3 separate regions of the Homo sapiens genome follow, and regions 2 and 3 are each linked to region 1. Evidence: fine-mapped expression QTL. A gene starts in region 1. Each other region holds a variant in brackets. All regions are shown on one strand. Distances are between the middles of the regions.

Region 1 (5,683 bases):
AACTGAAGGGTGGGGAGAGGAGCAATACCAAACCTAAAAGAACTGAGTATGAGCTGGGTGTAGTGGTGCATGCCTATATTCCTAGCTACTGGGGAGGCCAAGGCGGAAGGATCACTTGAGCTCAGGAGATCAAGACCAGCCTGGGCAACATACCAACACCTCATCTCTACTAAAAAGAGAAGAAATTAGCCAGGTGTGGTGGCACACACATATACTCCCAGCTATGGGAGGCTGGGATGGGAGGATTGCTTGAGGCTGGGAGATGGAGGCTACAGTGAGCCATGATCACACCACTGCATTCCAGCCTGGGCGACAGAGTGAAACTCTGCCTCTTAGGGAAAAAAAAAAAAAAAGCTAAAAGTACTGAGTAAACAAAGTCCAGACAGGACACTAAGATTAGAAAAAGAAAGATCTAAGCCAGCTGACAGTACAGAGCAAGGCTGTCAAGGAAAGATCAGGAAGCATTGTATATAAACTACTTTGAAGACAAGTCACTCATACAAAATCATTGCCATCTTGACAGAATTCATCAGCCAATAAAGAGCCATAATGGGCAGGATTACTAGACTGTTGTTAAGTTAGCTAATGAAAGTTGTAATGTACCTGTATTACACATCATTAGTAATGGCCTTCCAGTAACAGATGGGCATATCAGAAAGTGCAAAGAAAAGGGAGGGAAGCACGTCCCCAGAAGGTTTGACTTAGAGTCATAGCTTACTACAATGCATGGCAAGAATGCAATGTCGATCATCGCCTCAATTAAACCTTTGCATAAAGGGATGCTTCTGCATTGCTTTCCCATAAAAACTGCTACCTACATAGCTATATTGCCTGTAGCTTGCCTTTCTCTTGTCCTAATTCATCCCATAAGTAGAAGCTGACAATTCAAAGAACTGATAGGAAGAGCTGAGACTTTGAGGGCCAGATCAGTCCTCTATGATCTTCCCTCTTGATGAAGCCCCATTTATCTGCCCACCCTCTCTAAAGAGTATTTCTCAGATAAACTTTCCATAACTGTGTACCAAAGTTCCTCCACCAAGTTACATTTAAATTACTCTTTCTTCTGAAATATTTTCAAATGTATAGCAGAATTGGATGGATAGTACAAAGAATTCCCCTAGACCCCCACAATCATTTGAGAATAAGTTAGCGACATGATCAACATGATGTGCCCTGTTTTTGTTTTTTGTTTTTTTTTTCTTTTCTGAGACAGAGTCTCATTCTGTCGCCCAGGCTGAAGTGCAGTGGTGTGATCTCGGCTCAGTGCAACCTCTGCCTTCTGGGTTCACAAGATTCTCATGCCTCAGCCTCCTGAGTAGCTGGAATTACAGGCATGTGCCACCGTGCCGGGCTAATTTTTGTATTTTTAGTAGAGACAGGGTTTCACCATGTTGGCCAGGCTGGCCTTGAACTCCTGATCTCAGGTGATCTACCCACCTAGGTCTCCTAAAGTGCTGGGATTACAGGCGTGAGCCACTGTGTGCGATCTTCCCTCATTCTTGAATACTTAGTGTGCTGGTCTTACAAACAAGGACATTCTTTTGCATAATCTCTATACAATTAAAATCAGGAAACCAACATTACTACATTGCCACATTACTACCATCTAATCCACATACCTCATTCGAGTTTCAATTCTTCCCAAAATGTTCTTTATAACAAAAGGATCCAATTCAGAATCAGATATTGTGCTTGTGTCTCTTTAGTCTGATAGGTTCCTCAGTCTTTCCTTAACTTTTATAACCTTGGCACTTTTGTGTGTGTGTGTTTTTGTTTTTGAGACAGGGTCTACCTCTATTGCCCAGGCTGGAGTGCAGTGGCACAATCACAGCTCACTGCAGACTCTATCTCCTGAGCTCAAGTGATCCTCCTGCCTCAGCCTCCCAAGTAGCTGGGACTACAGGAGTGCACCACCACATTAAACTAATCTTTTATTTTTTTGTGTGGAGACAGGGTATCCTTATGTAGCTTAGGCTGGTCTCAAATTCCTGGGCTCAAGCAGTCCTCTTACTTCAACCTCCCAAAGTACTGGGATTACAGGTATGAGCCATTGCACCTGGCCCACCTTGGCACTTTTGAAGATGCCTGCTGTTTTGTTTGTCCCACAGTATGCCACTGTCTCATCTGGTGTTTCCTCCTGAATAGATTCAAGTTATGAATTTTTGGCAAGACTATACCGGAAGAGCTATGGAAGCTAGGTGTGCTTGTTACTATTGGGGTGTCATTCTCCTAGGCTGCTAAGTGGACAGAGCTAGGGAATATATGCATGTATGAACATGTGCAAACACACATTACATTTGTATTTATTTCTTTTCTTTTCTTTTTTTTTTTTTTTTTTTGAGGCGGAGTCTCCCTCTGTCTCCCAGGCTGGAGTGCAGTGGCGCGATCTTGGTTCATGGCAACCTCCACCTCCTGATTCAAACAATTCCCCTGCCTCAGCCTCCCGAGTAGCTGGGATTACAGGCATGTGCCACCACGCCTGACTAATTTTTGTAGTTTCAGTAGAGATGGGGCTCACCATGTTGGTCAGGCTGGTCTCAAACTCCTAACCTCAAGTGATCCACTGGCCTCGGCCTCCCAAAGTGCTGGGATTACAGGCTTGAGCCACCACGCCCAGCTTATTTGCAATTATTTATATATTTAGCAAATGTACTGAAAACCATGGGTTCACACTGATACCTCCAAAACCAAGTCAACACCAAATGGTTATCTTAGTTTTCTCTCTTTCTGTGTATACCACTCCCTTCACCAACAGTAAGAAAGCAATTAGGCTACATTTTATTGGTAGATGAAAATTAGGTGTAGAACTTCATGGATTCTAAACAAAGGGACTGAGTGATTAGGAGAATAGGAATCAAATATATACTTTCCCCCCTTCGGTTGGCTCTGTGAAAATTTATATCAAAATTTGCCTCTATAATCTCATTTTTAATAAAAAAGCAGGCAGATGTTGGAAATGGTATTTGTTTTTTCTTTCTAGAGCATCTGGGGGTGTCTAGAAATGGAAAATAGTGTTATTGTATAGAATTATGCATCATGTTCCTTAGTAATGAAAAATGAATGCGTATTCAATCAAAAAGTGAAAAAAAAACTTTTATTAAATGATGTTGAACTTTGTTTTCATCTTCAATAAGCCTAGAAGCATCCTTTCTAGAAGGTTACTTTCTGAATTGTGAGCAGTGAAAATTTGAGAAGCCCTCCTATTTATCAAAAGTCAATGTTTCTTTTAATTAAAAGGGCTTAGGAAAAACAAAAAGCACTTTTCCATTGCATTGTTTGCAGTTGTTCTTCATTAGACAATACCAGGTTTCCATTAGCCTTGTGTAATTCAAGAGCCCAAGAACCACTGTCAAATGCTGAAGATGTTACTGCATAAGTCTGATTTAGAACAGCTATTTGGATTTCAATTATTAATGAAATTAGTGTCCTGAATGTCAGCAAGAGTACTGCCTTAGGTAAAGGCTGTAAAGGAAATCATATTAGTGTGGAATTTCCTCTCCTTAGGGGCTCCTCTTAGATTACATTATTCACTTAGCTATCTCCTGTCAGGAAAATGGAAATGTTGGCCACGGTCTGATCTTGGGGCAGAACCAAAGGGAGAAGTTAAGGGATTTCATGACGGCATCAATTCCAAAACATTTGCATGGTGCTGGTATTGCCTTTGGTCCCACTGAGTGTTTACAAAATAGCACCAGTAAGGATAGCATCAACTGGCAAACGGAGAAGGAGGAGAACAGAGTGGAGAGGAACCCTGTTAGGAGAAATTGAGCGGCATTCCATCTGGTAGGCAAGTTTGCATTTCTCCTTTTTGGGATCTGCCCAGGAATGTTGTCAAGTGTAATGGCTCCCCTGTGGGCCTGCATCCTGGTGGCTGCAGGTGAGTCCTTTTAATAATTTTACTAGGCATTAAGGATTAACTCTTAGAAGATAGAGACAATATTTGTATACACCGTACTGTAGGACTTCTCAGGCATGTTTGTTTTTATTCATCGTCTGTAAAATGCCAGTCCTGTGAAGCTATATGGAAAACAATGATTTGTTTGTGACTTGGCTCCTATGATTGCAAATACGTATACATATAGCATCAGACTGTGGGGCTTTTTACACATAGCTGAAAATATGCTCTGAAATGTTATAATTGCTTGATAAATCTCTGCTTCTCTAGAAATCAAGCTCTCTGCAGGTTGATTGAGAGTTTGGGGCATTCTTTTTCAAATTTGCTTTTATGTGTGGATAATATGTTTTTATTATCCAAAATAGTCTTGGCTTCATTATCAGCTGTTAGCAGCCCAGAGAAAAAGTCCACTAGATTTGTCATGGCTACAGATATATGTATATCATTTTGGTATTAGAGGCCTTAACATCTCGCCTTACAAAATCTATATAGGTGATGAGTATATCTCTAAAGACAGGTACTATAAACTGGTAAGTTTTGAGTCTACAATTCCTCTTAAAAGTAATTTAGAAGTTAATACTTTTTTTTCTAAATTTCTAGAACTATATTTCCATGGCACCAGTATTAACTCTACTGAATTGAATCATTTTAGTTAGGATACAATTGATTCTTAGTACATGCGCACAAATCAAGAATTTATGATTATGCTGGTGTTCTCAACACCCCACTTTCTTGAGGTTTCTCCTAGAGCTCATATCTGAATTCTCAAGTTTTAGGATGTAACTGGAAGTGGAATGAGTCAATTATAGAGATGAGTTAGAAATTTGGTAGCCAGGAAGCTGGAAATGATTTTTTTATTGGGTAGAGAAGAAAAATAGCCACTTATCATTAAAGTATAAAAATCCTGGATGTTGAACATAAAGGATAAAAGCATATCTTAATTGTAAAAAATAAAAACAGAGGAAGTGTCATTAAATGCCAAATGGGTTTCTTAGTAGAAAATAATCGTGAACATTAAACTAAGATAAAATAGAAAAATGAAGGTAAGAAAACAGACTAAGTTCTTAACAATATCTCTCTAATGTTTTGTATTATGCATGATTTTTGTTCTAAATGTAGCAGAAAGAAGTGTTTTAATAGTGTCTGATAACCAGTGCTTTACCATAAATCATTCCGTGGATACTTGTTGCAGAAAGACCTGCCCTGTGGAATTGTACTGGGTTTTACTATGTTTACTTTACGTATTTTACTATATTTACAAATCAAGATGATTTGTTAAGTGTAAGAGCACGGAACCAATCCCAGGGGGCAGTGTGCTGGTATAGAAGGAGGCCTGAACAAGGAGAGCCAGCTAATTCCTGCTTCACCACTCACCAGCCACGTAACCCTGGGAAGTCAATTAATCTCTTAGAGACTCAGTTTTCCTGTAAGCTAACTTTATTTTGGATATTCATGACAATCAGATAAGACAGCATTGTTAAATTGTAAGGTGAAATGCAAATGTAAGATATTATTAACCTGAAAACACATGCAGAAAATACCACTGGCTATTTCTGTCCAATAATATACTCCATACAACATGTCAGTCTTCTTTTTGAAAGGTTACTTGCTGTTGTTCCTGATATTCTCAGGGAGCCAGGTTACACTTAATCATGTAGCGTCATGATTAAGAGCTTGGACTTCGAATCCAGACCAGCTGTGTGTAAATATCACTCCCTTCACTTGCAAGCTTCATGACCTTGGGCAGTGCTAAGCTCACTATGCCAATAGTCCCTCATCTGCAGGAAT
Region 2 (5,683 bases), 49 kb after region 1:
ATGTCTGTAATCCCAGCACTTTGGGAGGCCGAGGCGGGTGGATCACTTGAGGTCAGGAATTCAAGACCAGCCTGGCCAACATAATGAAACCCCATCTCTACTAAAAATACAAAAATTAGCTGGGCATGGCGGCACATGCCTGTAATCCCAGCTACTTGGAAGGCTGAGGCAGAAGAATTGCTTGAACCTGGGAGGTAGAGGTTGCGGTGACCTGAGATCGCACCACTGCACTCCAGCCTGGGCAACAGAGTGAGACTCTGTCTCAAAAAAAAAAAAAAAGAAAAGAAACATTTACAATCTACTCTCTCTGAAGCCTGCTGCCTGGAAGCTTCATCTGCATGATAAAACTTTGGTCTCCACAACCACTTACCATAATCCAGACATTCCTTTCTATTGACAATAACTCTTTTAAACAATAGCCAATCACAAAAATTTTAAATCTACTTAGGATCTGAAACCCCTTGCCCCACTGGCTTTAAGTTGTCCCCCCTTTCTGGACGGAATCAATATGTATCTTAAATGTATTTGATTGATGTCTCATGTCTCCCTAAAACGTACAAAACCAAGCTGTGCCCTGACCACCTTGGGCACATGTTCTCAGGGTCTCCTGGGGGCTGTGTCACTGGCCGTGGTCACACATATTTGGCTCAGAATAAATCTCTTCCAATATTTTACAGAGTTTGACTCTTTTCTTCGACAACATCATGAACAAATGGCACTACAGATCTCCTCCTGGAATAGTGTCCCTCTGTGGTGGGAGGAATATGGGGTGCCAGCAGCCCTTATTTGCAGAGCAGCTTTAGCTCAGCCCCTCCAAATGTTCATACATTTCATGATTCCTGTTTCATAGAGAAAGGAAACTGAGGAACAGAGCAAAAATGGGATTCTCCCAGCTGTGAGCACTCCTACCATCTGCTCTTTCGCAGAATCCAAGGTGGTTTCAGCACTCACCAAGAAATCACAGCTCCAGTTCTGGGGACTTCACTGATGTCTAGAACAAAGACTTAGTTAACTCCCAGGCCAGCCAGGCAGCCCCAGTTCATCATGTTGTAGAACTTTCTCCTTAGTACAGCTAAAAACAGAGTCCTTGTCATACAGCCATGAAAAATTAGGCTTGCAGACACTTTGAAAATGGAATTTACTGGGCAAAAAAAAAAAAAAAAAAAAAAAAAAAATGGAAATAGGGACTCTCAGCAAAGCGAGAGTCTGCTAGCCAGTTTTCCCACCTCACAAATTGAATTCCTAGTTACCACATCCCAGAACAGGAGAGAGAGGCCAGGCTTCTCCTCCCCGCAGAGGGCACGAACTTTCCATGGCTCTACCCTGCTCTTCCAGCATGCGGGCTGGTCAGGGGTTCTCCAGGGATCTTCCCCCTTTGTACTTGGCTCTCTTAATTATATTTCTTTTTTTTTTTTCTTTTTTTTGAGACAGAGTCTCACTCTGTCGCCCAGGCTGGAGTGCGGTGGTGCGATCTTGGCTCACTGCAGTCTCCACCTCCTGGGTTCAAGCGATTCTTGTGTCTCAGCCTCCTGAGTAGTTGGGACTACAGGCATGCGCCACCACACTTGGCTAATTTTTGTATTTTTAGTAGAGACAGGGTTTCACCATGTTGGCCAGGCTGGTCTCGAACTTCTGACCTCAGGTGATCCTCCCACCTCAGCCTCCCAAAGTGCTGGGATTACAGGTGTGAGCCACCACGCCTGGCCTCAATTATATTACAAGACGACTTCTGAGTGCTGCTCTGATGACCTCCCCGAGCCTCTGCAGCCTTGAGTATTGCCAATAATCAGGTGGCAGAGGGTCTCCTTTTCCTCCCAAGATACCCGCCACACCTTTTGCAGTTGTCCTAGAGGAGCAGTAGCTGCCATGATAAAGGAAGCTGAGTTTTTCACCTTTTAAACCACTGTGACACAGCACGTCTCCTGGGGTCTGACGTCCCAGCCTGGATGAGCCAGAACCGGGAAGCAAATGAGAGTGGCCATGAGGGGAGCCAGAGTGAAAGTGCCGTTGCTAGAATGCATCCTCCTCTCAGCTCAGCCTCAAGGCTTCCCCAGATGCTCTCCCTTCTCAGAGATCTAATGACACATGTTAAGGCAAGGTTAGTAGAAGTGGGTGGAGTCTGAATTTTATCCTGCCCTGTGGCTCTGAGGCTTCTAGGAAACTTCAGAGCTTGGGTTTTAAGGTAAAATCCACCAATCAATTCTTGCATGGTGGATTGTCTCCTCAGGGCAGAGAGCCCTTCGGGAAGGCCGGGCTTCCTTCCTTGCAACCCCCTCTGTGACCCTGGGCTCCACCTCAGCCATCACCCTGTCGAGCTTAGCCTACCTTGTCCTGTTCCCTCGATCAGACTCCATCTCAGCAGCCGGAACTGCTCAGTCCTGACTTATTTACCTGCGGAGACAGTAAGAGCTTCATAATTAGCTGAGCAACAGCATGGAGGCTTTTATGAGCAGCCACGCTCCCCCCACACTCTGGTGTCCGTAATTGAAATGACCCACGCCAGTGATTAGATTAGGGGGCTGAAGAAGCCCAGCACGCTGCTCCCCGTCCTGTCGGGGAGGTGATGTAATTAAGTTTGTGCTTCATTTGGCAGAGGCTATAAAGCAG[G/A]AATTGCATCAAGGTTTTCTGCAGGGGTGGAAGGAACTGCTGGGCTGTGGGCGGCCTCTGTGTCAGGCAAGACTACAGATCTGAGTGAGAGGGAGCCCCTTGCTCCCCCTTTACCTTACCCTCTGTACCTCTCCCACAGCCTGTGTTGGCCTTTGAAGGCCTGGGGTGTGTGTAAGTCTAGCGGGAAGGTCATCCCTCCTCAGTGTCACTGGTAACCCGGGCTGCATGTGGACAGCCAGCTCCTGGTCACCCTGCTCATCCTCTTTGAAGAGCGCCAGGCTGAGAGCAAGGGAATCGGGTGCTGTTGGCAGTTCTTTTTCTCCCCATATCCCTGCCCAGTCTCGGCTTGCAGCTCTTCCTTCCACAAGCCTCCTTCTCTACCCCAGCCCCATTCTCCTGCGGTCTCTTCCCACCACCTGCCCTTTTGCACGCGGGGCTGGCTTTGGCCAAGTTGTGCAATAGCTGAAGTTTCTTCTCATTCCTTCCTCTTTCCCACGCGTATCTACCCAGGGACCTATGTCGGCACACTGCCCAAAGGACATCTCACTGTTGTGTTCTTCCCAAATCTACCTTCCCGGACACTGTGCACAAATGAGACCAAAAATCCTTCCACTGTGCCAATGCCTTTTAAATACAGTCATTTAAAATTAATCTGTTCTGAAATACAAACTGGTGAAATGAGTTCATGCCACATTTTCAACCTGGGGTATATTATCCCTAGCATGGCTCAGCAGTGTGCTAGCTATACTCAAAACCCCAGAATGAACATGATTTCCCTTCTAAAGCATTGGTTTTACTCAACAGTATATTGTTACGAGAATTATTTACTTTCCTATGAAAATACATACTGATATATTTTGGTGAAGAAACAAAAATTTAGAATAAAACCTTAAAGATACAACTTTATTTTTAAAAATATTTTATTTTTAATTATTAGGGGTACATATTTATAGGGTACATGTGATATTTTGATACAAGTATACAATGTGTAATGCTCAAATCAGGGTAACTGAAATATCCATCATCTCAAGAATTTATCATTTTTTTGTGTTAGGAACATTCCAACTCCACTGTCCAGTTATTTTGGGTTTTATTTATTTGTTTGCTTTGAGACAGAGTCTCGCTCTGTCACCCAGGCTGGAGTGCAGTGGCACGATCTCAGCTCACTGCAACCTCCGCCTCCTGGGTTCCAGCGATTATCCTGCCTCAGCCTCCTGAGTAGCTGGGATTACGGGTACACACCAGCAGGTCTAGCTAATTTTTGTATTTTTTAGTAGAGACAGGGTTTCGCCACGTTGGCCAAGCTGGTCCCGAGCTCCTGACATCCAGTGATCCACCCACCTCAGCCTCCCAAACCGTTGGGATTACAGGCATGAGCCACTGCGCCCGGCCTCACTCTTTGGTTATTTTGAAATGTACAATAAATTATTGTTGACTATAGTTGTCCTATTGTGCTACTGGTCACTAGATCTCATTCCTTCTATCTAACTGGATTTTGTACCCATTAACTATTTCCTCTTTACCCCCCCTCCCTCCCCACTACCTTTCCCAGCCTCTGGTAACCATCGTTCTGCTATCTCCATGAGTTCAACTGTTTTGTTTTGTTTTGTTTTGTTTTTAGCTCCCACATATAAATGGGAACATGCAATGCTTGTCTTTCTGTGCCTGGCTTATTTCACTTAACATAATGACCTCCAGTTCCATTCATGCTGCAAATGACAATTTAATTCTTTTTTATAGCTGAATAATATTTCATTGTGTGTATGTACCACATTTTCTTTATGCATTCATCTATTGATGGACACTTAGGTTGATTCCATATTAAAGATAAAACTTCAGGCTTCATGGAAGGGGATCCTTTTTGGCTCTGCCCTTGCTTTAAAATATATCATACTAATACAAAATTTGAGGTATTGGCAAGGCCAACAGATCAGGAGACAATTGCTGGAAAAGATAGTTTATTATTCCTAGTTCCCAACAGGGGAGCATGAGCCACACTTCACCGTGGGAAGTGGGGCATGCAAGCAGAAAACACCCAGGTTGATTACAGGGTTAGGGGGTGGGGAGGCGCTGTGAGGAAGAGCCTTAATTGTTTCTGCGGGAAAGAGCAGGTAAGGCAGGGTAAGCAGGCTTAGGACGGGCTAGCGTGAATCATTTCAGGGGACTCTGGGGCATGGCAGCTCTCCCTAGTTGTCTGATATCCGGCTCTGAGATGATTAGGGCATGTGGATAGTGGCCTGGAGTATGAGAACCTGATAAAAAAGGTTACTGGGGATGTGGGCACTGGATTGGTTTGTATTTGAAAAGTTTGCTTGTAGGCGAGTTGTTTGCTATCTCTAGGAATTGGCTATCCCTGGAAGGGGCAGTCTCGCCAGGGTCAGCAAGGCCCCAGATGTCAAAGCATCAGAATATAAAAAATAAAAGACAAGGTTAATACAGCCCCTCTGAGATTCCAGTCAGGACGTATCCTTTTCTTCTGGTTTTCTGGGTAGGTTAGCAGAAATGGGCAGCAGAACTCAAAGGACTGGCTTAAGAGGTGAAAATGTTGGATATTGTGGCAAGCATGCAGGAAAAGTTATTTGAGGAAAGCAATACCTGGGCAAGACATATTCATTCATGCATTAATCCACTCACCCACTCATTTGGTAGTAGTAGTTTGAGCATCAGCTCTGTGTCAGGGGCCTTGCCAGGTGCCAGAATAGCACCTTGAATAGGACACTCAGAGTTTCTGGCCTTGAAGGAGCTTTTAATCCAACAGAAGTGGTGCAGTAAAAAGAATACAGGTTTGGAGGTCAGAAACATGCATTTAAGTTCCATTACAGCACAGTTACTTAAAGCTGACATGGATTTCCTCTGAATGCAAACCTGATGGTTTGGCAGAAGCTGCCTGGAGTATTGTCTGGAGATAGATTTTTGGGCCACCAGTGGGGTCTGTGGGAAAGCATGCTGTAATGAATTAGTGCTGTCAGCCACAGGTGACATCAGGTGAGGGATAATCAGAGCTTGCCATGTGCCAAGCACTGTGCTGATGCTTTGGGTGGCAGTATTCTAGACCATTAGAATTTCTCTCGGTAGG
Region 3 (5,000 bases), 33 kb after region 1:
AATGCTGGCTAGTATAATCGCAACTCATACCCTCCTGATGGTGGGCTTTGGGCTCTTGCCTAGAATCCTGCTTGGTTTTAAGCAAAGCTTGCATTGTGGCCTGTTTGTCCACTTTTCTTGTAAGGAAAAGGGAAGGAAAGCAAGCAAGCTTTTTTTTTTTTTAAATTTCAATGAGTTTCTTGGCTAGGAGTAAACACCTCATTAATTTTAAAGATATCAGCCCACAAACATTATTAATGCAGCCCGAATAATGGAGAGCATTAAAGGGAAATGTGAAGGAGTAGCACATGCAAGGTGGAACATAGTCACCTACCAAGTGCTCCTGAGAACACTGCACACACCATTACCTACACTGCACGGAGGAGACAAACACAGGAAAGAGATGGGGCAGGTAAACAAGGGCGTGTGCTTGCATACACAGGCACACATGTGCACACACACACACACACACACTCTCTCTCTCTCCATAGAGCAGCTATTATTTGTAGTTACATGTCACTTTCCTTCACCCTAAATGTTAATTCGTCAACAGCAGCTGAAGGTTTTCTATATACCATCTCCATTTTAATTATGATGAACAGAGACAGAAGATTGTCTAATGGAGGGGAGGCTTCCCTGGATCTCAGAGCCATGGTCCAGTTCCTCTGCTCTCCTCACTGCCATGCTTCCCCCCGGGTACGTTTTGAAGTGGAAGTGTGCTGGAGGCAGGTGCAATTTGATTTCATGCTCTTGGAACTTTTCCATGGGTCCTTTTGCCCCGGGGGTGGACGTGGGTTATCTAGCAGGGCTGGCCTCTGCCCTGGTCCTCAGGAGCAGAGTAGGGAGAGAATCCTGAGTAGAGTCACAGATCATATTTGGTGGGACAGGAGGCCAGACTCAGGAGCAATTCTGCAGCTTTAGAAAGACTAAAAGTGGATTCAGTGACGATCACAGTTTTCTGCCTCCCAACCTCGCTCAGCCTCCATGCATTTCTGCTCTGTGCACAGAGCCTAGGCTCATTCTCTTACTCCATACCAGACATCCCACTCTGAATTTAGCAACCAAGGCACCTGGCTTTCCTTCAACAGCCCTTGGCCAGTGATGTGAAATTCAGAGCCTGATTCTATTATGCCAACACTGGGCCTGCCAGGGTCCTGACAGCAAAGGACCATCTCCTCTTAATCTACTCGCCGGCTGTGTCTCAGTCCAGGCTGCCCAGCGGGAGGTTGGGGACGGGTAGGGAAGTCAGGAGAAGCAATAATCTATTCTAAATTCATCCTTGCCCTTGGCCTGAGGTACACTGCTGCCATTTATACTAAATCAAGTGCTCCGGATGCCCCATGAGTTTCAGCTAATGTGCAATCATAGCTGCCGACTCTGGGACACAAATTGTTTATCAGAGGACACCACGGATACTTTGGAGTCAGGCTACATTCCACAGGGGGCCCAGAGCATAGGCACTTCTCCCTACAAAGATGTCTGTGTACAGCCTGGGACCCGGCCCAGCAGCCATGGGAGGGGAGGTTTCCTCCAATATATTATTGGAGGTGCTGGTTCCCAGAAACAGCAGGGTGAGAGCATTTGATTTTGCATGGCAGTGGTTTTTTTCTTTTTTTTCTTTAAAGAATGAGGGTAGAAGTGGGAGGAGGTAGGAATACAATTTAGGAACTCGTGTTGGATGGAAAAGGGTGGACAGCTGTGGAAACTAAACCGAGCCCAACCACAGATATCCTCACACCAAGTAAAGTGTTTATTCGGGCAGGAATTGGGGTGCGCACAGGGTGTCCTAGAAAATGCAAAGCGGGCATTTGGGAAAGAAAGGTGCTTCATTTATCCTCTTTTTCTGTTATAATTTTTTTTCTAGATTAGGTAGAGTAACTTTGTTGAGATACTTATTGAATGCAGCTTATAAACTTGATAGAAAATCAAGATCCCTCTAAGTGCTAGCAGATCATATGAGAGAGAGAGAGAGAAAGAGAGAGAGAATTTAGAGCCCTGGATATCCTTTCTGGGTCACTCAAGTGATGTGGGAATCACAGACTGACTTTCTGCTAATCCAGAGCGACCCATAGTCTAGATCCAAGTAACTCTGACTCCGGTGCTTAAATGGCAGCAACTTTCCTGTTCTTTCTGAGTTGGGAATGCTGGGAGGGGCTTTGGAGAGGAGGCAAATGGGTTCTTCTGTATGAAGCGGAGTCTAGGCGTCAAAATTCCAACTGTGTCATAAAGACGGTCATGCAAAACTGAGTACTGGTGGGGTCTACCATCAAGGAGGCAATTACAGGCTAACCTTGG[G/A]GCCTATTCCATCTCCAAGGAGCTCTCCACACACACATTCGGAATTAGATTGATCTCTTTCATTAACATCAATAGGCTCCAAATACCTTTGTGTACTTATTATTACCTGGCTTTAATGGATAATGAAATTGTGGCATAATATTGCTAACACCTGAAGGGTGTCTAATGGGGAACATGGACTGAAACTAAAGTGCTTTTTCTTCCCTTTCTGTGGAATTTAAAGGCACCAGCTCCTTTAGTCCATTAGAAATGATGAGCTGTAGGTAGGGGCAGTTTTGCAGAGAGCAGTGTCTCACTGAGCAGGTGACATGCCTTCTACTCAGCAGAAGCAGGAGTCACTGCTTCTTGCATGATCTGCAGAGAGGTCGCCCTCAGAAAGACTGACCTCAAGAGGATAGCCTCCATTCAGGCTAACTCCACACTTCCATTATATTGGAACTAAAAGTAGTGCTACTACCAGACTCCAGTACAATTCAATAAACATCTTTTGAGTTCTTACCATGTGCCAGGCTCCATGGTGAACACTTAGGACATAAAGATGAATAAATGAAGGCTCCTGACATCTATCACAGATCCCCAAAATCTGCCCAGGGAGACATAATAGCAATAACCACAAAGCTGAGCACTTAGCCTATGCCAAGCACCATTTTAAAGTTTGTACCTATAATCCTCACATCCCTAGGAGATGAGTGATCCAAGTATCTGCATTTTTACAAATAAATGAATTGAGGTGCAGAGAAGTTAAGTAACTTACAGGAGGCTGCAAGGTGACTGGTGGAGCCTGGACTTGAACCCAGGCAACTTGACTCCAGAAACTATGTGCCTAATTCCATATCATGCTGACACACAACTAAAGGCAGTGCAGTATATTCTGGTCCATTCTTTGCCATTTGCCCACTGGGCATTACTTGGCAGGTCGCGTGTATTAGTGTCACAAGGCTGCCATAACAAAGTAGCCCAAACTGGGTGGCTCAAAACAACAGAAATTCATTTTCTTGCAGTTATGTAGGCTGTAAATCTGAAATCAAGACTTGGGCAGGGTTGGTTCCTTCTGGGCATTCTGAGGGAGAATCTGCTCCTTGCCTCTCCTCTGCCTCTGGTTGCTGCCAGGAACCTGTGGTGTTCCTTGGCTGGTAGATGCGTTGCTCCCGTCTCTGCCTCCATCTTCACATGGCCTTCTCCTTGTGTGTCTCTTCTCTTCTTATCAGAACTCCAGTCACATTGGATTAAGGGCCCACTCTACTCCAGTATGACCTCATCCTACTCTAGTACATCTTCAATGATATCATTTCCAAATAAGGTCACATTCTGAGGTTCCAGGAAATACATGAATTCTTGGGGGCCCTCTTCAACCTAGTAGAGTCTGCAACCCAAAATTCACTTCTGCTCCATGTGCAAATTCATTCAGCCGCATCCCAACATCCCCCAAAGTTTAACCCAGCATCATTCCAGTGTCAACTCTTAAGTCCAAAATATCATCTAAATATAAACTCGAAAAGTCCCAAATCTCATTGTTTAAATGATCTAAAGCAGGTAATGACCTTGATTATGGTCCATTCTGGGGCAAAATTTCTCTCCTGCAACTGACTCATGAAACACTCAATCACCAGAATCTGCTGCCTGATCCTACAAGATGGGATAAGGGCAGGGAACTGTCTTATTAATAGTACTAACTTCAGTATTTAGGATAGTACCAGACAACCTGTTCATGCTCAATTAATGTTTATTGAACAAAGGAATAAAGGGCTCTGATTATCCAATGAGATAATAAAAACAAAAAATTTCTGAAAACTATATGATGAAATTAGAGTTTATTTAGGCTGCACTGGGTTTGCAGGGAAAATTAGTCTAGGCCTGGCACTGTGGCTAACGACTTTGGGAGGCTGAGGCAGGTGGATCACCTGAAGTCAGGAGTTCGAGACCAACCTGGCCAACATGGCAAAACCCTAAAAATGCAAAAATTAGCTGGGCGTGGTGGCAGGTGCCTGTAATCCCAGCTACGCAGGAGGCTGAGGCAGGAGAATCGCTTGAACCTGTGAGGCGGAGGTTGCAGTGAGTCGAGATTGCGTCATTGTACTCCAGTCTGGGCAATAAGAGCGAAATTGTGTCTAAAAAAAAAAAACTAGTCCATAGGCAACATTGCCCTTAAATAACCACAAGAAAAAGGTGGATTCTTTCTTCTGGAAGAAAACCAAAACCCAAAACTATAGGTACTATTTTGTGTGTCTTAGAAATGCGAACATCCTTCCTAAAGGTAAGAGAATGGATGAGGTGGTTTTGGAAGGCCTATCTAGTTTTGCGATTCTATAAGCCAAACAAAGACAAGAGACGGCTTTGCTTTATGTTACAGCAGAAGCTAATTGTCCACCCTTGTCCCTATGTCTTTTCCCTCTGCCTTCATTTACTGTTGACATCCAGTGAGGACTATCCTTCTGACAGGGTCAGCTAATAATATGCAGGGTTAGTGAAAAATGAAAATGCAGGACCCCTTATTCAAACATTTTTAAGAATTTCAAAATAGCACCAGTGGAGCACTAAACCAAGTGCAGGGCCCTTTCAAGAGCAGGCTCTGTGTGACTACATAGGTTCATATCCACAAAGCCTGCCTACCTCCTAACCTCTTAGCTCTTGCCACAGCTCTCCCTCAGATGATTTCTCGGGGAACACGTGGTCTGATAAACCTGTACTTTCTTGGAAATCAGGGACCTTGAGGGGCCACACCATCC

What was found. PIP is the estimated chance that this variant, and not a neighbour inherited with it, causes the effect. A credible set is the group of variants that fine-mapping cannot tell apart.
Region 2: its variant is the best candidate, but not a certain one, in a credible set for the expression of HTR3B in whole blood (TOPMed, PIP 0.67).
Region 3: its variant is the best candidate, but not a certain one, in a credible set for the expression of HTR3B in whole blood (TOPMed, PIP 0.73).

What each region holds. Positions count from the first base shown.
Region 1 is chr11:113,901,109-113,906,791 of GRCh38, forward strand. It overlaps HTR3B (5-hydroxytryptamine receptor 3B), which reads left to right and starts at 3,688. Exons shown (of 9, transcript NM_006028.5): 1 at 3,688-3,877. The coding sequence starts at 3,826.
Region 2 is chr11:113,949,731-113,955,413 of GRCh38, forward strand. No RefSeq gene overlaps it. Among named protein-coding and RNA genes, the nearest start is that of HTR3A, 23 kb to the right of the region's middle. RefSeq lists an enhancer at 2,235-2,788. The variant G/A (reference allele first, on the strand shown) is at 2,608.
Region 3 is chr11:113,934,611-113,939,610 of GRCh38, forward strand. All of the region lies in intron 6 of HTR3B (5-hydroxytryptamine receptor 3B), which reads left to right. Among named protein-coding and RNA genes, the nearest start is that of HTR3B, 32 kb to the left of the region's middle. The variant G/A (reference allele first, on the strand shown) is at 2,275.